Homo sapiens: one gene and its partners. The protein of the gene in region 1 purifies or fractionates together with the protein of each later gene. This does not show direct contact. Each region holds a gene or a part of one and is shown on either strand. Other genes may lie near its edges.

Region 1 (3,747 bases):
GCATTTTCAACTTCTGATATTTTCAACTACAGTGGGCTTATTGGGACATAACACCATCATAAGTTGAGAAGCTTCTGTATAACCGATTAATATTTGTCCTCCAAAATTTACTGCAACACGTAATTCTGAACTGAAAAATAAAAAACCCAAACTTCAAATTTCTCAGTTTTTTCCTATGCAGGCTACCATCTCATAGGGGTATACAATTGGCAGTTTATTTTTTTCCCATTTTTCAAATTAAAGTGAATTTCTTGAGTTTCATGACGATGAAGCTTATTCATAAAGACAACGTGTGTGGATAAGTCAGCCTATTTGAGGCATCTAGGGTTAATGTTACTCTGAAAACAGATGTGCTACTGGGACAGTCCCTGCAGCAGCATCAGGCACTTCCTCTACTACACAGTAGTTTATAAAACACCCAGTAAACAATTTTAAGTAGATCATCCCTTTACTCAGAGGTTTACATGGTTCCACTGTCACGCATCATACAATTAATAACAGGCATGTTTTGGACCTTACAAAAATCGACATCATTGTCCTTTCATTTCCACCTATATATATAATAGATCTTCAGATGAATACTGAAAAACTTGATCAAAAATGGATGTTTATGTATACATTATTCAGTGCTCAAATACTTCAAAACATTTTTAACAGTGACAAATCACTGAATTTTCATTCAGAAGTTTGCCTATTTTACACATCTATATTCAATGAGCCTTCAATAGTACTAGCAAAGTGGGGGGAGAGTGGGCAGTGATCATTACATCTTCCCACTAAATACCAACATCCAGAATCCTGCTCTGGATCCTCCAATGACTTGAAAAAATAAAAAGGCTGTTAGCAATACTATTTCCAGCAAAAAGAGAATGAAAAATGAAATTGCAAAGGAGTAGTAAGTACAGAAGCTGCAACTTGTCAACCGTTGAAATTACATCTTCAGATTCCCTATACTAAAGAGCCTGGATCTAAAATAAGTGTTGAAAATAAATCTCCTTACCTATGGATAACAGAGAGAAAAGACAAAAAAAAAGGAAGTAAGGGAAAGAAAACTATAATTTTCAATGGATACAAATACGAAAGCATATGGAATCATGCAGAAGGCCAAACTGCTACCTGTTTGGATCTTCAGAGGAGGGATAGGGGACATATCTGCAATCCTAGGGAGATGGTCTGTTGCATATATAATTTAAATAAATCACTCCAGCCCATGAAAGAAGGGAAGCAGCAGCATTCTCACTAATTACCACTGCCTGGATCCCATATGCTGCTTTCTCTTTAAAGCCACACTAGTTCATTATTCTGCCTTCAACTCTCTTAAATGATTCATTTCTCCCTTCACTCCTGAGCAGACTCTGCAGGGAAGCTAGTATTTAAGTTTAATTTCTCGTGTCACTTGCTTTGGAGAGCTTGACGAGGGGAAGGAGGAGGAATCTAACTTAATAATTCTGTCTTGATTTGGAGGGGCACCCTCCGGCCCCCACCCTAAACAATAACTAGACAAACAGGACCCTCTGGCAAGCTATAATCGTGAGCAAAGATATCAATTGGGAAAGCAGGGCCCACGTGCGGTGGGAGCTGTCACCCAAGGGAAGTGGCAGCCTGCGAGAAGGAGGGAAGGTGGGAGGGAGTCGGGCTGATCCTACAGCTGCACCGGCCTAGGCGCTCTGGTGGGGTGGGAAGGACTCGAGCCGCACCTGAATGAAGGTTAGCTCTCTCTCAAGACACTAACTAGGTAGGGAGAAATCGAAGGGCACGAAGGCAGGCTCCCGCACCCTCCGAGCCGTCGCTGCGAGAGGGACAACCCCCAGTGCACGCCGCGGGCTTCCCCAGCCGGAGCCCGCGCCTTACCGTCCCAGCTCCGACTCCACCTCGAAGAAATCGCTCAGCGCATCCCTGTTGGAGCCGTCGATCCAGTAATCCGGGACGAGGCTCGCGGTCCCCGGGGCCGCACTGGCGGTGACCGAAGAGCAGGACGAGGCGGAGCAGGAGGGCACCGTGACTTTGAGCATCTTCGCAGCGGGACTCCGGAAGCCGCCGCCGCCGCCGCCGCCGCTGCCCGAGCGAGAAGCCGGCCGCCAGCCGCCGCCTGCGAACGCAGGAGCGAGAGAGAGGCGGCGTCCTTCACGCGCGCACACGCCCACCGCCGCCGCCCGCGCTCGCAGGGACGGTGGGCGGGGAAGGGGGCGAGCCTCTGCGAGAGGGCGCGAGGGGGAACCCGGAGTCGCCGCCCGCTGGAGGGAGACTAGCTGCACCGCTGAGGAGAGAGGCTCCCTCCCCCTCGCTCCTTCCCTCCTCACCCGCCCTCCTCCCGCGCCGAGCCTTTCCCGCCGCCCTCCCTCTTTCCTTTCTCTCTCCCAGGCTGTGGCTGCCGCGGTGCCGGCTAGGGCGGCTCCGGATGCTGGAGCTTGGGGAAGGCACAAGGACCCGCGCATCATCCCACGCGCCCTCCCGCGGGGACCGGAGCTGGAGGGAGACCGTGCGCAGCGGGACGCTGCTCTGGGATGGCGGGCGCCAGGCGTACCCTGGCAGCACCTGGGTCCGGGCGGCCCCGCCGGATAGCGAGAGAGGGACCTAGGTGGTGGTGGCGCAACTCATCCCTCCTTGAGCGCGTCTCCGTGGCGAGTCCCTCCCACCTAACACCAGCTAACCAGCCATCCTCTGTCAAAGCTTATATTGGTGGCCGGGGAGGGAGTACTGTGGTCGCCGATCCCTCAGGGCTCCTGTGCCTGGACCCAGTGAGAGCTGGAGGAAAAGGAAGCGCCCAGGTCCACACTGACCTGACTCACCTTTGAGTGAAGTCTTCAGTTGGAATAAATGCTGTCGTCGCTGCTGGTGGCACTGCCTCCTCGGCACTGCTGGAGCTCCTAAAAGAGGAGATACTTGGCTGTGTCGAGTTCAATCTCAGCATCTGAAGTGGCTCAGAATTACAGTTCTAGAAGGGCCTTGTGGAAGCCAACTAGTAAACCCTCTGCCTTAAGGCAGGACCTGTCCTCATTCATGACAGGGAAGACTGCTACATGTAAAAGCCCTTTTTCTCTTCCCAAGAGATGTATCCCATGATAAGCATTCTTATGTCCTGTCCATCAGCTGTCATGGCTCTTCTTCTCAGTATTAAACATACATCACTTAAACTACCCTTGAACTTTTTTCTTTTCAGATTTCAGCAAAGACGAACAACAATTAGTCATGTTCTGATACATATCTATGACAGTTATTATACCACAACTCATTTCTGGCTAAATAGCTCCAGGCGCTTTCACCTTACTTCACAGGTGTTACTTTTGGCCTTTTTTTTTTCCTGAGTTTCCTCCAACATGCGCTAAACTCTTCCTAGTAAGTCTCCATTCCTGATAGCACCAACCATTAATATGGTCCAATATTTTAATCTAATTTATGGATTTATTATTCTTAAAAGCCTGCCTGCTATACTGGTGAACAAACAACCAAAAATATCCAATCAAGTAGTTACAGGAATGTGATTCCTAGCTGATTGGAAATTGAAAATATATATAGTCATGCATCCCTCAACCACGGTGAGAAGTTGAAGAGATGCATCCTTAGGCGATGCAGTTGTAAGAACATCATAGGGTGTACTTGTACACAACCAGATAGTATAGCTTACTACACAGCTATGCTGGATGGAATAGTCAATTGCTCCTAGGCTTCAAACCTGTACAGCATTTTACTATACTGAATACTACAGGCCAGCGGTCCCCAACCTTTTCGGCACCAGGGACCAGTTTC
Region 2 (3,747 bases), on another chromosome or scaffold:
GCAAATGCCCGGCCCCTGCCCAGCATCCATGCCCCCGGCCCTCCTCCAGGTTCACCTCCAGAGCAAATGCCCGGCCCCTGCCCAGCGTCTGCGCCCCCGGCCCTCCTCCAGGTTCACCTCCAGAGCAAATGCCCGGCCCCTGCCCAGCATCCATGCCCCCGGCCCTCCTCCAGGTTCACCTCCAGGGCAAATGCCCGGCCCCTGCCCAGCATCCATGCCCCCGGCCCTCCTCCAGGTTCACCTCCAGGGCAAATGCCTGGCCCCTGCCCAGCGTCCGCGCCCCCGGCCCTCCTCCAGGTTCACCTCCAGAGCAAATGCCCGGCCCCTGCCCAGCATCCATGCCCCCGGCCCTCCTCCAGGTTCACCTCCAGAGCAAATGCCCGGCCCCTGCCCAGCATCCATGCCCCCGGCCCTCCTCCAGGTTCACCTCCAGAGCAAATGCCCGGCCCCTGCCCAGCGTCCGCGCCCCCAGCCCTCCTCCAGGTTCACCTCCAGAGCAAATGCCCGGCCCCTGCCCAGCGTCCGCACCCCCAGCCCTCCTCCAGGTTCACCTCCAGGGCAAGTGCCCGGCCCCTGCCCAGCATCCATGCCCCCAGCCCTCCTCCAGGTTCACCTCCAGAGCAAATGCCCGGCCCCTGCCCAGCGTCCGCGCCCCCAGCCCTCCTCCAGGTTCACCTCCAGGGCAAGTGCCCGGCCCCTGCCCAGCATCCATGCCCCCGGCCCTCCTCCAGGTTCACCTCCAGAGCAAATGCCCGGCCCCTGCCCAGCGTCCGCGCCCCCTGCCCTCCTCCAGGTTCACCTCCAGAGCAAATGCCCGGCCCCTGCCCAGTGTCCGCGCCCCCTGCCCTCCTCCAGGACACTTCTGTTTGAGTAGCACCTGCCACGTGCAGCAGGCTCACCCCAACCTCACTACCAAAAGTGCCACTGAGACAGATGAGGAAACAGACACTGCTCTCACTCCATTTTACAGACAGGGAAATGGAGGCAGAAAGGCCGTGGCGTGGCCTAAGTCCCGCTGGTGGCAGCAGTGGCGCAGGAGGTGAGCCCATGCTGCCAGCTACCAAGCTCAGGCTCAGCACCCCAAGGGGAGGGTTGGGCGGGACCTCCATGCTGTACAGCCCAGCTCGGCCTCTGCTTCCCCACAGCTGCACTCAGACCCCTCCCAGCTCCCTGGAGTCCCTCCTCATATCGCCCAGAGCCAGACAGTTCCCAGCAGGACAGCAAACGGGTGGGGATGGCTCTGGGCCCACGACAATAAGCGGGACATGTGTCCTGACCAGAGGGAGCACCCATTAAGCAGAAGATGGAAAGACCAAAATAACGCGTCCCTGTGTGCGAGTGCTGACGGAGGGCCCGAGTTCCTGGGGAAGATCAGGAACGGACAGCGGACCCACAAGAGGGCAAAGCCAGGCTGGGCGGGGGCCAGAGCAGGTGCCTGGTGGGGACGGGACCGCTTCCTGTCGGCTCCCTGTGTCCCCTCCCCAAGTAGCATTTGCAGCTGTCCGCCCAGTAGAAGGGCCCCTTGCACAGCAGCCCCAGAACGTGGAGCCACGTCGCACACCCTACACTCCACCCGATCCTGCAGTCCTGCACGCAGCGTCACCAGGGCTTGGGTGAGGTGCGTCTCTGCATCCCTGACTGGCCAGGCTGGGTCCCTCCACGTCCGAGCGGCTCTTACTGCGTGTGGTCGTTGGCTTCCCAGGCCTCCAGGATCCTCTGCACCAGGCAGCACTTCTGGAACAGCTGGGGGGCGGGGCAGGGGGACAGCGTGAGTCAGGGTCTGAAGGCGGCACGCACCCCTCCACCCATCCCTGGACTGGGCAGGGCTGGCTGGCGGCCACGTCTGTGTGGACTTTGCAGGCCCTGACTGCTGCGCACGCACAGCCCCAGCCTCCGCGGTCCTCACCAAACACCAGAGGAGGGTGCGGTTCGGGGCTCATACTGCTGAGCGCCCTAAAGATGAAGCCCGAGAAAAGGACCCTCTCCCTTCTCCTCCAACTCCTGGAATTGCCCCCTGACCCCTGTCTTCCCCTGGGCCTTCTCCCCGTCTCTCCATTGCCCTCCACTTTGGCCACTCTCCTGCCCTCTTTCTCTGTGTCCGGAAGAACGACTAGGGCTGTCTGCCCTCAGCACTTTCTCTCACCTCCAGGCCCTGACACAGATCACTTCTTGTACCTGAGATGTTTTTCCTGGGCTCCACCTCACACTACGATATACCTGTGGCCTTGCTATCCGGGTGACAGTCCCTGGTTGGCCTGCATGTCCCTCAGCATCCCCTCCCCACCGTGTGGCTCCCATCACTGACACTGCTGGCTCCCTGGGCATTTATTCCCTGGGCCTCCAGCTGGAGGCCAGACTGAACTCATCTCATCCAGTGCTAACCCTTGCCAGGCCTGCACGTGGAAGGCACCAGTACCCCTGCTGAAGGCAGGTAGGAATGAGATCTGCAAGACCCACTCAAGCCCCACTGTCTACGAGCGTCTGACCAGACACCTGGGGACCCTTTTCAAAGCCCTGCCCCCGTGTCAGCTGCACAGTGAGGTCCGGCACACGTCAGCGCTGACATGGACACGGTCTGAGTGGGGCGCAGTTGGCGCTGATAAGATGGATGCTTCTTGGACTCACGTGGGTCACCATTGTGTTGTCAGGGAGGCTGGCGGCCGGCTGGGGAGTCTCCAGGCTCCGGTTCCCGTTCTCATGCGGAGGCTCCACCCTGCTCTCGGATCCGCTGGCTTCTGTCCTCTCCTCACGGGCAGCGTGGGAGAGAATAGCGGCTATGCATAGTTCCACTTGGAAGTGCAAAAAGTTATTCCAGGTGTACTTAAAGAACAAGTCCTGGGTAAACAGAGGACAGAAGACAGTTCTTAGATCGGTTTTCTCCTGCCGGCTACACCACAAAGCTGAGGGAAACCCTTCCTAAAGGTGGCGTCCTAACTCCTCACAAGTCCAGTCTCTGGGTAGCTAGGAAGGAGTTTTAAGCGTTTTCCTGAGGGTCATCTCTCTATTACGGAGCTTCTTCAAATAGCCACTGAGCACTTCTGCCTCCTGCCTGTGGGTGTCTGTTGGTCTCTGCTTCAATCTGAATCATCACCTTTCTACTTTCTGCGGGTTTATTCTTTTTTTTTTTTTTTTTTGAGACGGAGTCTTGCTTTGTCTCCCAGGCTAGAGTGCAGTGGCACGATCTCGGCTCACTGCAACCCCTGCCTCCTGGGTTCAAGTGATTCTCCTGCCTCAGCCTCCCTGGTAGCTGGGATTACAGGTGCCCACCACCATGCCCAGCTAATTTTTGTATTTTTAGTAGAGACGGGATTTTGCCATGTTGGTCAGGCTGGTCTTGAACTTCCAACCTCAGGTGATCTGCCCGCCTCCGCCTCCCAAAGTGCTGGGATGACAGGCATAAGTCACCAGGCCTGGCTTCTTTTGTCCTTCAGTTGGAAGCTCAACTCATTAATTGCAGCCTTTCTTTCCAGTCTGTCTTTAAAGGCTACATTTCCCTGTATACAATCAACTTTAACTACATTCTACACATTTTGCTAAGTAGTATTTTTATGATTCTTCAGTTCTAAGTATGTGAGAAGTTCCTTTATGATTCTGTCTTTCTCATGAATTATTGGAAGTGTGTTAGACTCTCAAGCACATGAGGATTCCACCCAGGATGGGCAGGCGTGTGCATATCGTCCACCACACAAACGTGAGACTGTGAGGGGCACATTCAGACACTCCCCAAGGGAGCCCAGACTTAACCAG
Region 3 (3,747 bases), on another chromosome or scaffold:
ACAGGGTCTCGCTTTGTTCCCCAGGCTGGTCTCAAACTGCTGGCTTTAAGTGATCTTCCCGCCTCTGCCTCCCAAAGTGCTGGGATTATAGGAGTAAGCCACTGTGCCCAGCCACAAAAAGTAATTTTTCCCCCTTTGTAAAGTTCCCATTTTGTCAAGGGTCAAAGAGAACAACTGATGTCCTTCCAAGTTTGGCAGCAGTGGCTGAAGGCTGTCCGTATTTTTAATTAAATTTTATTTGTTCAAAGTAGCTGGGGGAGTGCTTCACTGCCCACACTTCTTTCAAGGGTTCTTCTAAAGGTGCCTGCTGCTGTTCCTGCTGCTGGCAGGCAGAACAACCCATTACATAGGCCAGGATGCCTTGGATGAGAGCGGGAGTGGGGAAAGAAGCTTGTTTCAGGTGTGTTTTCTAGTCAGAATATGACTAAAAACAGGCTCCTCTCCTCTGCATGGGGGTTATTTTTTGAGACGAAGTCTGGCTCTGTCACCCAGGCTAGAGTGCACTGGCATGATCTCGGCTCACTGCAACTTCTGCCTCCTGGGTTCAAGCGATTCTCTTGCCTCAGCCTCCCAAGTAGCTAGGATTACAGGCACATGCCACCACACCTGGCTAATTTTTGTATTTTTAGTAGAGACGGGGTTTTGCCATGTTGGCGGGGCTGGTCTCGAACTCCTGACCTCAGGTGATCCACTCGCCTTGTGCCTCCCAAAGTGCTAGGACCATAGGCATGGGCCACCATGCCCGGCCAGTTTTATCTCTTAACATGCCACTCTCTTTGCTTAGAAAGTTCCTCCCCCACTTTCTCCTTATCCTTTGGATTTTGGCTTAGCAGTTGCATTTTTTGGGATGCCTTCTCTGATCCTGCAAGAAAGGATTTGAAGACCCTCTTAAGTACTCTCATAGCATTCTATGCTTATTCCAATTAAACTATTTTAAGTGCATCGTTAATAGGCTGTTTGCACTCTTATCTCCATTCAAGGGAGTAGACTATGTCTTATTTTACACTATATCATCAGAAGTTAGTACAGTGCTTGGCATAATCACTCATGCAGCAAATATTCACTGAGCCTCCACTTGCTCAGGCACTATTTAGAACACTAAGAATATATCAGTGAATGCAACTGACAAAGATTTCACTGTTCTTGTGGAGCTTACATTCACTTTAGTGGAGAAGACACAAAATCAACATAACAAAAAAGTACATTATATACAATATGTTAAAAGCTTTATGTAAAAAAAGAGGAAAGAGTGGAGCAGGTTAACAAGGACTGAGAATGCTATGGTAGGGGTATCTAGCAAGTTGTAGTAAAGAATAGTTAGAATATGCTTCATTGAGAAGATGAAACTGGAGCTAAGATTTGAAACAGGTGACGAATTTAGTCATGGGATGTTTGGGGACAGAGTGTTCAGGCAGAGTAAACAGCCAGAATGAAGATCACAATGCATGTATAACCCTGCTATGGAGGGGCTGGCATGGCAGAATGAAGTAGAGAAAGGAGAAGAGTAGGAAATAATATCAGAAAGGTAACAAGGTGGAGGACACATCATGTAGGGCCTAGTAAGGTCATTTTAAGAACTATGAGTGGGGCCAGGTGGAGCACTCTGGGAGGCTGAGGTGGGGGGATTGCTTGAGGCCAGGAGTTCAAGACCGGCCTGGACAATATAGTGAGAGTCTGTCAGCACAAAAAATAAATTAGCTAGGCCTGGTGATGCATACTTATAGTGCTAGCTACTTGGGAGGCTGAGGTGAGAGGTTCTCTTGAGCCCAGGAGTTCAAGGTTACAATCAGCTATGATCTCACCACTGTACTCTAGTCTGGGCAACAGAGTGAGACCCTGCCTCTTCAAAAAAAAAAAAAAAAAAAAAAAAGAAGAAGAACCGAAATTCAAGAGTAACATGTTCTCATATACTTTAAAAGGATCCAGGTCAGTCTGGTAGCAGTAAAGAAAAAAGTGGGCATACTTTAGATCTACTTTAGAGGTGGAGTCAATAGTATATGCTGATGGACTATACATTGAGTATGAGTGAGAGGAATCAAGGATGACTCTAGGGGTTTTGCCCTGAGCCACTGTTAAGAATGAGAATTGTCTTCAATGGAGAGAGCATGATGCTGTGGGGAGAGTAGGTCTGGCAAGGGGAGTGGGAAAGGATCAACAGTTCAGTTCTGCACATTCTAGGTTTAAGCTGTTTATCAGACATCCACATGGATGTGTCAATTAGGCACGTGGATATATAGAGACTGTGAGAAGTCTGGGCTGGAGATATAAATCTGGGAATCCTCAGCATTATAGGTAGTATTTAAAACCAAAGGAACTGATGAGAGCACTAGGGAGTCAATGTAGATAGAGAAAGCAAAAAGAACGAAGAATTGAGTCCTAGAAGAAGAGGGAGAAATTTTGTAAAAGAAATTAAGAAGGAATAACTAGTAATGTAGAAGGAAAACCAAGGAAGAGTGGGGTTCAAAAAGCAGAGTAAAAAAATTTATCAAAGGAAACGATCAGTTGTGCCAAAAGCTGATCTATCAAGTAAAATGAGAGCTAAGTAGTAGTTAACACAGTAGAAGTCATTGGTGGTTTTGATGGGAACAGTTTTGCTATGTGTAGGGGTGAGGGGGAGAAGGCCTGACTATACGGAAATTAAGAGAGAATGGAAGAATGAGGCTGGACGCTGTGGCTCACACCTGTAATCCCAGCAATTTGGGAGGCCAAGGCAGGCAGATCACCTGAGGTCAGGGGTTTGAGACCAGCCTGGCCAATATGGTGAAACTCCGTCTCTACTAAAAATACAAAATTTAGCCAGGCGTCGTGGCAGGTGTCAGTAATCCCAGCTACCTGGGCAGGCTGAGGCATGAGAATCGCTTGAACCCAGGAGGCGGAGGTTGCAGTAAGCCGAGATCATGGCACTGCACTCCAGCCTGGGCAACAGAGCTAGACTCCGTCTCAAAAACAAACAACAACAACAACAACAAAAGAATGGAAGAATGAGAGGAATAACTGCGGACAGCAAGAGAGTAGTTTTGCTGCAAAAGGGGACAGAGAAATATGGCAGTAGCTGGCAGGAGCAGTGAGATTTATAAATTATTTTTTAAGGATGAGGGAACTAATGTTTATATACTGAGAGGAATAATACAGGAAGAGAGCGAAAAATGTTACTCCAGGACACAAAAGAGAACTGTCAAACTGACATTATGAAGTAGGCAAAAGGGGACAGGATCTAGTGCATGAGTAGAAACACTGGCTTTAAATAAGAATATTAGTACTTAACTAGGATCTTGATACATATTTGCTGAAAGAACAAAATCTTTGGCTACTAAAACAACAGAAAGTGGCAAGTATAAACAGTAAATACTAACTTTGCTGTAACAGATGATATAGGAATTCGGAAGTACATCTGTTAGATAACTTTTCCTATTTCTTTTGCCCTTATTCCTTTGCCACAAACTACTCTTCAATATTAACTTTAGCTCTCCTCTTTGACCAATAAAAAATATCCAAGTTTATTTCTCTTCAAATATGGATCAAAAGATAAAAGCTCTAGGTTAAGGGAAGAGAATATAGAACCAACTTACCATTTTCATCTACTGCAAGCACACTTGCTCCTTTTCCCAAAAGTTCCTGAACCACCATTGTTAGCCCATTTCGGGCAGCAACATGCAGAGGTCTAGGGGAAAAAACATGATACATGTACACATATGTGCATGTGCATGCACATACACATACACACCTGGCTGTCAAAGAGCATTTTTG

Evidence for each region.
Region 2: the proteins of CAMK4 (region 1) and PPP6R2 purify together in Homo sapiens (affinity purification with mass spectrometry; 2 studies listed by BioGRID and IntAct, with this or other methods). This does not show direct contact.
Region 3: the proteins of CAMK4 (region 1) and ANKRD28 purify together in Homo sapiens (affinity purification with mass spectrometry; 2 studies listed by BioGRID and IntAct, with this or other methods). This does not show direct contact.

The regions. Positions count from the first base shown.
Region 1 is NC_000005.10:111,222,749-111,226,495, reverse strand, and holds the start of CAMK4 (calcium/calmodulin-dependent protein kinase type IV), read right to left. Parts: upstream 2,113-3,747; 5' UTR 2,013-2,112; coding exon 1,852-2,012; intron 1-1,851. UniProt on the Homo sapiens protein: Calcium/calmodulin-dependent protein kinase that operates in the calcium-triggered CaMKK-CaMK4 signaling cascade and regulates, mainly by phosphorylation, the activity of several transcription activators, such as CREB1, MEF2D, JUN and RORA, which play pivotal roles in immune response, inflammation, and memory consolidation.
Region 2 is NC_000022.11:50,430,261-50,434,007, reverse strand, and holds part of PPP6R2 (serine/threonine-protein phosphatase 6 regulatory subunit 2), read right to left. Parts: intron 2,836-3,747; coding exon 2,626-2,835; intron 1,744-2,625; coding exon 1,679-1,743; intron 1-1,678. UniProt on the Homo sapiens protein: Regulatory subunit of protein phosphatase 6 (PP6). May function as a scaffolding PP6 subunit. Involved in the PP6-mediated dephosphorylation of NFKBIE opposing its degradation in response to TNF-alpha.
Region 3 is NC_000003.12:15,672,329-15,676,075, forward strand, and holds part of ANKRD28 (serine/threonine-protein phosphatase 6 regulatory ankyrin repeat subunit A), read right to left. Parts: intron 3,662-3,747; coding exon 3,570-3,661; intron 863-3,569; coding exon of another isoform or gene 753-862; exon of another isoform or gene 1-752. UniProt on the Homo sapiens protein: Regulatory subunit of protein phosphatase 6 (PP6) that may be involved in the recognition of phosphoprotein substrates. Involved in the PP6-mediated dephosphorylation of NFKBIE opposing its degradation in response to TNF-alpha.